Linked DNA regions of Homo sapiens. The protein of the gene in region 2 purifies or fractionates together with the protein of the main gene of each other region. This does not show direct contact. Each region holds a gene or a part of one and is shown on either strand. Other genes may lie near its edges. The genes, in order: FKBP14, S1PR2 and CSNK1G3.

Region 1 (3,750 bases), on a different chromosome or scaffold from region 2:
GTTTTATGACTCAGAGCCATGAAAAGCGAAGATAATAATGCACTTAATATCATTTTGTACACTATAAAGGGCTACTCTTAGAAAATGAAGATTTGATAACTTTAAAAAAAAGAATTAAAGATAAAAGCCAATTTAAAATAAAATTATATATATTTTTTTCTTTTTTAAAATCCAGGATAGGTATTTATTCAATAGTAGCTGCTGTAGGTCTGCTTCTTTTTTTTTTTTTGAGATGGAGTCTTGCTCTGTCACCCAGGCTGGAGTGCAGTGGCACAATCTTGGCTCACTGCAACCTCCGCCTCCCGGGTTCAAGCAAATCTCCTGTCTCAGCCTCCCGAGTAGCTGGGACTACAGGTGTGCACCACCACGCCTGGCTAATTTTTGTATTTTTAGTAGAGACAAGGTTTCACCATGTTGGCCAGGCTGGTCTTGAACTCCTGATCTCAAGTGATCCACCCTCCTTGGCCCCCAAAGTGCTGGGATTACAGGCATGAGCCACCACACCCAGCTAACTTCAGTTTTTGATGAGACAGAAATGGGAAAATGTAGACTGGTTTACTACTTTATCTTATGATACAATGTTATTGTAGTATAATATACTATAGACTACCCATTAAAGAACCAGGAAGGATATTCCGCTAGCCTTAAGAAGTAAATATTGAATATAAATATAACTTTCTACCTCATCTATAACATATTGATACATTTTATTACAAAGAAACTCACACATAAATGATTTGTCCTATTTATCATAATAGGCCACCAATCACTAGGAGCCAAGCTTCATCAGCTTAAGTCCTAGGTAGCATGTCTCAATGCATACATATTTATATGTTATTAACCGTGTTTCTTTTCTTTTTTTCGAGACAGAGTGTCCAGGCTGGAGGTGATCTCGGCTTACCGCAACCTCCGCCTCCGGGTTCAAGTGATTCTGCCGCCTCAGCCTTCCTGGGTAGCTGGGATTACAGGCACGCATCACCACGCCCGGCTACTTTTGTATTTTTAGTAGAGATAGGGTTTCTCCGTGTTGGTCAGGCTGGTCTCGAACTCCCAACCTCAGGTGATCCGCCCGCCTCAGCCTCCCAAAGTGCTGGGATTACAGGCATGAGCCACCATGCCTGGCTATTAACCTTGTTTCTAACTTCAGCATTGCACATCTCCTTAGTAAAGCAGTAGCCATTAACAAGTCAGGTCCAACAACCATTTTCCTCTGGTCCTCAAGCAGAGACTCAGAGCCAGTTACACATAAACTATTTCATTATAACATGAAAATAGCAAGCCTTGGGCTATTGCAAAAGGCTTTTCAAATGTTGACCTCTAACTTGGAGAAAATAGAGGGAAGCAGAAATATAGGGTGCTAATTTGTGCTATAACCTGGTCTCATGTCGTGGTATATTCCCAGTTGCAACATTTTAAATTTATAAGTGAGAAAGTAAAACAAAGCTTCATATCTGTGAAAGTGAAAAATTGTCCAGAAGTCTTCTATTCAAAGACCAATTAGCTTTTTCTTCCCAATAACTTATCAGAAAGAAATGGGTACTTAGAAACCTAAGGGGTTCTTTAAATAGGAGTCAGAAAAAATATATAAAAATAAAAAACAAAGCAAGAAAGAACATTGTATAAAAATAAAATGTTCTTTAAAGATGACTGCCCTCTCTTGAAAGATGAGTGCTATATTAAAAGGGTAGATGTATCTCTATAACTCATCGTGTTTATATGTAAATTCTCTGGCAGATATAAACCCATCTTTGTCTTCATCTTCTTTATCAAAAATATCCTCCACCAAAGCATCATGATGACTTTCATTCACCACCGCACCATGTTTTTCAAACTCCTTCTTTAAATATGCTTTAACCTACAAAATAACAGATCCCATTAATAACTTGGATTCATAAGATACCCACATTGAGCCAATCAATATCACAGACATGGACTGTTATTATATTTAGTTCATTAACTAAATATAATACCTTCTAAACAGCCATTTTATGACATAGTTTTAATGATAATTAAAAAATAATAGAAACTTTTTCCCTTAAAAAAACTGTTGCTAAACTGCTAAAGTGGAGACACAAAATATTGCTCAAAGGCAGGGCCAGGTGTGGTGGCTCATGCCTGTTATCCCAGCACTTTGGGAGGCCCAAGTGGGAAGATTGCTTGAGGTCAGGAGTTGGAGATCAGCCTGGCCGACATAATGAAAGCCCATCTCCACTAAAAATACAAAAAAAAGTTAGCCAGGCATGATGGCATGCGTCTGTAATCCCAGCTATTCAGGAGGCTGAGGCAGTTGAATCGCTTGAACCTGGAAGGCAGAGGTTGCAGTGAATCGAGATTGCGCTGCTGCCCTCCAGCCTGGGCAACAGAGTGAGACTCTGTCAAAAAAATAAAAAATTAAAAAATTAAAAATATATATATATATATAGCTCTCTCTATATATATATTGCTCAAAGGCAGAGATAAAGCTTATGTCATGTATACAATCCTCATATAGGGCTTATATTATTGGAGAATACCCAATGAGAGCATACTACTTGTTCTTAATCTGAATCTAAATACTAGGCATTTCTTTTCTTTTTTTAGACAGAATCTTTTTTTTTTTTTTTTTGAGACGGAGTCTCACTCTGTTGCCCAGGCTGGAGTGCAGTGGCGCAATCTCGGCTCACTGCAAGCTCCGCCTCCCGGGTTCACGCCATTCTCCTGCCTCAGCCTCCCGAGTAGCTGGGACTACAGGCGCCCGCCACCACGCCCAGCTAATTTTTTGTATTTTTAGTAGAGACGGCGTTTCACCGTGTTAGCCAGGATGGTCTCGATCTCCTGACCTCGTGATCTGCCCGCCTCGGCCTCCCAAAGTGCTGGGATTACAGGCGTGAGCCACCGCGCCCGGCCTTTTAGACAGAATCTTGCTCTGTCACCCAGGCTGGAGTGCAGTGGCACCATCTCAGCTCACTGCAACCTCTGCCTCCCAGGCTCAAGCAATCCTCCTACCTCAGCCTCACACGTACCTGGGACTTACAGGCATGTGCTACCACATCTGGCTTTTATATTTTTTGTAGAGATGGGGTTTCACCATGTTGCCCAGGCTGGTCTTGAACTCCTGGGCTCAAGCAATCTAAACCCCTCAGCCTCCCAAAGTGCTGGGATTAGAAGCATGAGCCACTGCACCCCATGGACACTTCTCTTAAAACTAGATTAAATAGTGGCATCTTTGACTTGAATAAATGTCTGCAAGTAGTGGGTCTTTTGGGTTTTGGTTATGATCATGTGATTAGATTGAGTCTAATCACAACCTTTCAATCTCAGAAAGTCAGGTCTGATAAGTGCCTAGACTACAATTTTCCATTTTCATTTGTTTTTTTGTTTTTCTTTTTTTTTTGAAATAGAGTCTTGCTCTGTCACGCAGGCTGGAGTATAGTGGCACGATCTCGGCCCACTACAACTTCCAACTCCCAGGTTCAAGCGATTCACCTGCCTCAGACTCCCTAGTAGCTGGGATTACAGGCACCTGCCACCATGCCTGGCTAATTTTTGTATTTTTAGTAGAGACAGGGTTTCACCAAGTTGGCCAGGCTGGCCTCGAACTCCTGACCTCAGAAGATTTGCCTGCCTTGGCCTCCCAAAGTGCTGGGATTACAGGTGTGAGCCACCATGCCCGGACTCCATTTTCATTTCATTCAGATATTTAAAAATATAAATATTGTTTTCAATTTCCCACAAGATTCACCACAATGAAAATCAGCCTATATTTTCAGT
Region 2 (3,750 bases):
TCACAGAATCTCGTTTTATTATCTGCACAGCGCTTGCCACTATGGGAAACTATCATGATATCTTTCCTTTTCTGTCTGGCTTCCACCTAGACAGTCAATGCCTAAGGCCAGGGAGCAAGTCAGTTATCAGCCCCTACAGGGATGCCTGGCACAAATAAAACACTCAGAAAACGTGTGGAATGGGCAAATGAATGAATGAATGAATGAACCAATGAACAAAGGAGACCCTAGTGGGTTCCCAAGGGTGGAAACTCCTAAGCTCAGCCCAGACCCAAACAGCAACAAAGGAGCCTGGAGACACCTCTGGTCCGCGGGCAGCGCCCCCATCGCCCACCATCAACCAGGCAAAGCCCAGCGTGTCTCCATGGAGATGGCAGCAGGACCCGACCCCGTGCTGGCCCGCACTCTCGGCCTCCTTATCTGGTTTAGGAATGCGCGGTATCCACGCTCGCTCGCGCGGGAGCCACGCCTCCTCTCCCCCCCGCCCCCGAGACCGCCACACGCGCGGGGCCCCCACGTCTCCAAGCGGCACTGGAAGGATTCCTCTCCGTCCCGCCAGGGGTCCCGCCTCGAGATTCTGGGAAGACTGGGGGTGGGGGACCAGATCGCAGCAGCAGCTGCACCGCGAGTTCCGCGCCTGGCCGTGTCGCCCCACGAGGGGGACTGTGGGCTCAGCGCGTGGGGCCCGGAGCATCTGACAAGGACAGAGACAGAGGAGGGGGTGGAAATCCCCGGGTGAGTCAACCCGTGCCTGAGAAGGGGGCGAGTTCCGACGCTCCGCCCGGCTCGGGGCCACGCGAGGTCCGCGCCACGCGCGCCTTCACCCACGACCCATCCCTGAGCCGGAGTTGAAAGAGGAGGCGTCTGAGCCACGCAGTCACTTTCTCTTTCCTTACAAAACAAAGCCACGCCCCCCGCCGGGGGACCGGAGGAGGCAAACAACTTGGGGAAACCGAGGCAGAAAGCCCGACGTCCGACCGCCCTCCCCGTGGGTGCCGCCCCTTGGCTTGGAGGCTCCACGGCGCGCACATCCTTTTGCCCTCGCTCAGCCGGAGTCAGCCAGGAGGGGTGTTGCCCCCCCCCAAACACACTCCCCAAGACCCCGGTCCCCGAGCACGGCGTCCTGCCTCCCAAAGACTCCAGTCGAAAGCGCTCGGATTCAGCCTTCTCCCCGGCGCCAACTTCCTGCCGCTGAGAAAGGCGGGGAGCACAGTCTGCGGGTTCGCGGCCGAGGCAGTGGGGGCCGCCCGGATTCTTGGAGAGGGCGCACTGTGACCACCCGCTCCGTGCAGCAGGAACCCAGGCGGCGCGTGCGCGCCCCAGCCCCCCGATTGGGGCCCCTCAGCTCGGATCCCGAGACCTCAGGGGACCAGGCCCGCCTTTTCTGCCTCCTTGTCGCCACGCGCGCTCACCTGGCTAGGCCGGCCCGGCTCCCGGCCCTGGCCGGAGGGGCCTTGGCGTCTGCGTCCCCAGGGCGGCCGCGGCTGGGGCTGGGGTTGCCAGCCGGGCTCGGCTAAGTCCCGGGGCTGGGACGAGGGACAGAGGGGGGGGCGGAGAGCCGCCGCCTCTGCCCCCCGCTCGCCCCGCCCTCCTCTCCTCCCCTTTCCGGCGGCGGCTGCAATGAATTCCAGATGTGACCGGCCGGCTGGCCGGGGCGCACGCGGGGGCCGACAGGAGCTGCACGGAGGGCCCTTTGTCCGCCCCCCCCACCCGATCTCTCACTCTGCCCCTCCCAGCCCCCACCCGTGAGAACCGGCCGGCGCGAAACGTCACGCAGCCTGGTGACGTCACAGTACTCCTGGCCAGGTGGCCTCAACCTGAAACAACTGTCTTCAACCCCAGGTTACCTCTGGGCTTACCCCTGGGACCCTGGACTTGGAAGAAAACACGAGGTCACATTTATTGACTCAACAAAGAGCCTTGGAAGTACCTACTAGGTGTCAACGCAGCAAATAGGCATTAAGTGCCTACTGTGTGTCCACCCAACAAATAAATTCCTACTAAGTGCGATGTCCTGTCCCAAAGACAAAATTGATCTCTTTTTTTTTTTCTTTTTTTGAGACATGGTCTTGCTCTGTCATCCAGGCCAGAGTGTGGTGGCTCAATCATAGCTCACGGGAGCCTCAGCCTCCTGCCTCAGCCTCCAGAGTAGCTGGGACTACAGGTGCGCCATCATGCCTGGCTAATTTTTTGCAGTTTTTTGTAGAGATGGGGTCTCGCTGTGTTGCCCAGGCTGGTCTTGAACTGCTGCATTCAAGCAATCCTACTGCCTCAGCCTCCCAAAGTGCTGGAATGACAGGCGTGAGCCACTGTGCCTGACCAGTCTCTCCCTTGATAGGACCTCCAGAATTCAGGTGCTGCCCTGTTTCCCTTGGGGGACTGGGGACACTCCACACTCTTTCCTGCCTCTGTAGATCACTGTCCCCTCTGGCGGGGCCCAGTTTGTGCCTGCCTTCCAGCGTCGGGCCCAGTCTTCTATCCAGATTTCCAATTTTCACTAATTCCTGGGCATTTCTGTGTGCCTGCCTGCGGAAATGATGGACACTACACCTTCATCGAATGATGTGTGTGTGTGTGTGTGTGTGTGTGTGTGTGTGTGTGTGTGTAACCAGCAGTTCGACAACAGGATAGGAAAGCCCCTCATTCCAGCAACAAAATTTTTTTGTTTGAGACAGAGTCTTCCTTTATCTCCCAGGCTGGGGTGCAGTGGTGCCATCTCAGCTCACTGCAACCTCTGCCTCCCAGGTTCAAGCTATTCCTGTGCCTCAGCTTCACAAGTAGCTGGAAATACAGGCGCGTGCCACCACGCCTGGCTGATTTTTTTGTATTTTTAGTAAAGACAGGGTTTCACCATGTTGGCCAGGCTGGTCTCGAACTCGTGACCTCAAGTGATCCGCCTGCCTCGGCCTCCCCAAGTGCTGGGATTACAAATGTAAACCACAGCACCTGGCAACAAATATTTTTTATGCACCTACTGGGCACAGCAGTGAACAACAACAACAGCAACAAAAAGGAAAAACTCCTTGACCAGATGGATTTTTTTTTTTTTTTGAGACAGAGTCTAGCTCTGTCGCCAGGCTGGAATGTAGTGGCACTATCTCGGCTCACTGCAACCTCTGCCTCCCGGGTTCAAGCGATTCTTCTGCCTCAGCCTCCTGAGTAGCTGGGATTACAGGCATGCGCCACCATGCCCAGCTAATTTTTGTAGTTTTAGTAGAGATGGAGGTTTCACCATGTTGGCCAGGATGGTTTCGATCTCCTGACCTCATGATCTGCCCGCCTTGGCCTCCCAAAGTGCTGGGATTACAGGCATGAACAACCGTGCCTGGCCAACCCAGTGGATCTTATGTTCAGGTGGGAAATATGGCTTTTTATGAGGGTACCATTTGTGAAAATGTAGACATTATATGTTATAAACATAATCTGGCCAGGCACGGTGGCTCACGACTGTAATCCCAACAGTTTGGGAAGCCAAGGTGGGTGGATTGCTTGACCCTAGGAGTTCTAGATTAGCCTGGGCAACATGGTGTAACTCCATCTCTACAAAAAATATAAAAATTGGCTGGGCATGGTGGCTCACGCCTGTAATCCCAGCACTCTAGGACTCCAAGGTGGGTGGATCACTTGAGGTCAGGAGTTCGAGACCAGTCTGGCCAATATGGCAAAACCCTTTCTTTACTAAAAATACAAAAAATTAGCCGGGCGTGGTGGCGGGCGCCTGTAATCCCAGCTACTCGGGAGGCTGAGTTA
Region 3 (3,750 bases), on a different chromosome or scaffold from region 2:
TCTCCAGTTACTTCTCTGTGTCTCCTCTGATCCATCCTGTAATCCTCTCCATGCTGGGAGTAGACTTATTCTGGTATAGTTTATTGTTTCAGATGTTTTTCAGAATGGAACAAGCGGTTGTTTTGTTCCAAAGGGCTTCCCAAAAGGATGTGTCAAATTAAATAGAAGGAATGCTGAAGTATTGAATAACAAAATATAGGTCATTGAATAGTTATATTATTGTTAATAGTGAGATTTGCTGTGGATGAGATGAAATGTAAAGAATGTATATTTTCACAGAAAGTGGTTTTAATGAAGTAATTATAAAAGAATCTGTACGTGAGGAAAATTGATAGTAACAGAGGGATGATAAGATGAGAAATTTTCACAGTTCGGGATTAACGTGTGTGAGGTTTTTAAGTCATCTTAAATATTAGACGACCCTAAAATAATGTAACCCCACACTTAATCATTATCAAAGGAGTGCTTAGAAAAAAAAATCAGTTTATAAATGCAAGTAAAATCATGTTACAGGGAAAATTGTTTGAAGTTTTTTTTTCTTCTCCTAATTATTCCCCTCTTAGCTTCCCTAATTATTCCCCTCTTAGTATTCAAAAAGGACTTATAACTGAATTTGTGTTCCCTTCAACCTCCCAGTAACAACAATACCTCCTATAATTTATTAAGTGCCTACTTTGTATAGAGGCCATAAATGATACTATTACGACAACTCTGAGTTAGGTGGTGTAACCTCATTTTTGAGAGCAGGAAACAGTCTTCTAGAGTTTAAATAATGTGTTGAAGATATATCTTGGAAGTAGCAGAGTGCATATTTGAGTCAGTTTTTTTTTCTGACTTCAAAGTCTTAAGCCACCAATGATCTGTTTTTTCTTATCTTCCATCTTCATCCTTTTTTTGGTCTTTTCTCAAGCGGTTGGCAATTCGTGGTATTAATTGATAGTATGTGTCTGAGTGTTGGTTCTTTATGATGTAATTTCTTCAGAAGCGGTAGTTTTGAGGTATCTGTCTTTAATTGTGGGATCCTGTAGGTGCAGACAGTATGGTTCTGGTAATTTAAGGCACCTCAGAGCATCACCTTTTGCTGATCTGCAGGACAGAACTATGCTTGGATTCTTAATGTGTAGAAATCAAATGTGCTTTAATAATGTGAAATGATTTTCAAGGGCATCTGAACTGCTCAGGAAATATGGAATGGGAGATAAATGTAGAAATATATAACTTCTAGCGACATGGTGGAGGCTGCTGTTAGACATTTTTTCTTTTTTTTAAGCTCTCTCTGAAAGCTGAGATTTAGCAACTATAAATGTTTGGGCTTCCCTTCTATTATGAAACCTAAGGAAAGTATGTGTTTATTTGTTGTTAGACCATAGTGATTGGTTATACTCTCTCCTGCCACTTCGTGCTTATCATCTTAGTTATAAGAAATAACTCTTAACAATGAATTGAAGTGTTTATGTATTGGGGAGATAAGACACACTTTTTTGGTCGCTTTGTTTACCAATGATATATTACATAGTTGTAATTTATTGAAAATTTATGAGTAAGTTATGTCCACATGGCTAAATCATGTCCGCATTTTTCATAACTTTTCAATGGAATGAGAGATGGTCTCATGATACTCTTTTTCTTAAATACAAAGTTTAATGTTTTTTTTCTCTAGGTTAGTAATGTGAGGTTGAAGTTGTATTCAAATTTATTACATTTATTTAGATCACTTTGTGTTACCTGGAAGTACTTTCTTCAGTTGATAGCTACATTTGGAAAAAAAGGGAAGAGAGTTACCCTGTTATTCTGCCATTATATTCTTCATCAAAATGGAGGAAATTCATATGAAGTGCCAAGGACTATGTGATGCCTGCCACATAGTAGGCACTGTGTAAATCTTCTGTCCTTCATTTCAGAAGTTGCCGATAAGAATTTTAGAGGGTGGATTGGTGGGTAGACAAGCAAAGACTCTCGGGAACACCCTATTACAGGAAAATCTCTCATACCTGACCTCTGCTTAACCCACTCGTGAGATTAAATGATAGTCTTCATTCTCTCTGTAGAATTTGCTGACTGATGCTCATGCTACATTGAATGACAGTAGACTATTCTTTAGTTTTATCTTGAACTTTTATTCCCCCCAGTTACTGTAGACTTACCAAGAAACATTTGTGTTTGTACCCAACACACTGTTATGGCACTTGATGTTGTAATCACATAGTTTAATGAATTATTATTCAGTGAACTCTGAAGATAAAAAGGCGTTTGTATGAGAACCAATTGGCTACTTTGAAATCAAGTGAGTAGCCAAAATCAATTATGGTTGAAATAGATGAGGGTTAAATAATTTTAAATGATTAGGGAAAAAAAAACAAAAAACACCTAACGATCTAAAAAAATCTGCAATAATATTATTTTTCACGTTTGTAAAATGTCTTTCTGTGTTTAAGAAACAGAAACTGGAAATCACAGGTGTTGTTTTATGGGGGTAGTTTTTGCAAGAAAAAGGAAATAGAACTTTCTTCGATAGACCCACACTGGAAGAAAAGGCCATAGCTCTGTATTATAAGATTGTCTTGTGAATGGACATTTTTGTTTTAGTTGTAATAAAATGTATAGAGTTTGTAGATGTTGAGAAATGATTTCCTTTTTAGGCTAACTTCAGAACCATTTATTAATTGTAATATATTAAAGAAGTCTGCTTCTAAAACATCATCTTTCCTAGTTTACACTACTGCTTAGAGATTTATTTAATAACATCCTCTTTAAGAAAAAAAAAAAAAAAAAGGAAGATCCTGTTATTCCCAGAGGTTCATTCCTTAGAGTGAATTGTTTATCTAGTCAGGTGATCAATCTATGGTTCTCACATATTTCCCAGTATGGTCCCTAATCTGATTTCATAAGCTACCTTTCAACTTTTATGTACTGTCAGGGTTGAAGGGGTAAGCCTTCTTATAGTTCCAACATCTCCATCCAATTAGGAATGCTGGGGTAGAGGAGATTGTTCTTTGAAGGAGGAAATGTGACACCCTTGATATATACCAGGAGCACTTGAGCCTCCTATCTCACCTAGCTCAGTCCAAATGGAAAGGAGAACTTTCAGTTGAAGGAGCAGGAAGTCCAGGTTGGAGAAGGAGTGGTATATGTGGTATGCTATTTATTTTGGTGTAACCACATTGCTTGCTGAATTACAGTAGATGCTGAAATGGCACATTGAAGTATGAAGGTAGGGTGGGTGGCTCCAAGCTAGTACTTGAGAGCTCTGGTCTGCCCCTCTGTGATTTTCTTGGCTGTTTGTCTTCTGTGTGTTGGAGTCATCCTAAGGCCAGCAGCAAGATCACATCTAGACATGCACTGGCCAGAGGATGGAATGGATCTCTCTCTCTCTTTCTGTCTGTGTCTCTGGAAAAGCAAATACATCTTTTGCATAAGCCTACCAACATATTTTTCTCTTCGTATCTTATTGACCAGAATTAGGTCACATGAACGTCCTAACTAGTTATCATAAGGGAAGTAAGGTTATCATGGTTGGTTTCTACTAATCAGGAGATACCTTCTGCAATTGGTGTTGGGATCACATTTTTCTGAGTTAGATGGAAGAGGGAGGATATTTTAAAAAAATTGTGGGAAGGAAGAATTTGGGGGATATGGATGTTAGAGAGATGATAAATAGTGATCGCTGTGTCTACCTGTTTTGAAGCGATTCTCGTGCTTCAGCGTCCCAAGTAGCTGGGATTACAGGTGCATGCCACTGCACCCAGCTAA

Evidence for each region.
Region 1: the proteins of S1PR2 (region 2) and FKBP14 purify together in Homo sapiens (affinity purification with mass spectrometry; 2 studies listed by BioGRID and IntAct, with this or other methods). This does not show direct contact.
Region 3: the proteins of S1PR2 (region 2) and CSNK1G3 purify together in Homo sapiens (affinity purification with mass spectrometry; 2 studies listed by BioGRID and IntAct, with this or other methods). This does not show direct contact.

What each region holds. Positions count from the first base shown.
Region 1 is NC_000007.14:30,013,039-30,016,788, forward strand, and holds part of FKBP14 (peptidyl-prolyl cis-trans isomerase FKBP14 precursor), read right to left. Parts: intron 1,856-3,750; coding exon 1,697-1,855; 3' UTR 1-1,696. UniProt on the Homo sapiens protein: PPIase which accelerates the folding of proteins during protein synthesis. Has a preference for substrates containing 4-hydroxylproline modifications, including type III collagen. May also target type VI and type X collagens.
Region 2 is NC_000019.10:10,229,792-10,233,541, forward strand, and holds the start of S1PR2 (sphingosine 1-phosphate receptor 2), read right to left. Parts: upstream 1,541-3,750; 5' UTR 1,413-1,540; intron 695-1,412; exon of another isoform or gene 622-694; intron 1-621. UniProt on the Homo sapiens protein: Receptor for the lysosphingolipid sphingosine 1-phosphate (S1P). S1P is a bioactive lysophospholipid that elicits diverse physiological effects on most types of cells and tissues.
Region 3 is NC_000005.10:123,515,177-123,518,926, forward strand, and holds part of CSNK1G3 (casein kinase I isoform gamma-3), read left to right. Parts: intron 1-3,750. UniProt on the Homo sapiens protein: Serine/threonine-protein kinase. Casein kinases are operationally defined by their preferential utilization of acidic proteins such as caseins as substrates. It can phosphorylate a large number of proteins. Participates in Wnt signaling.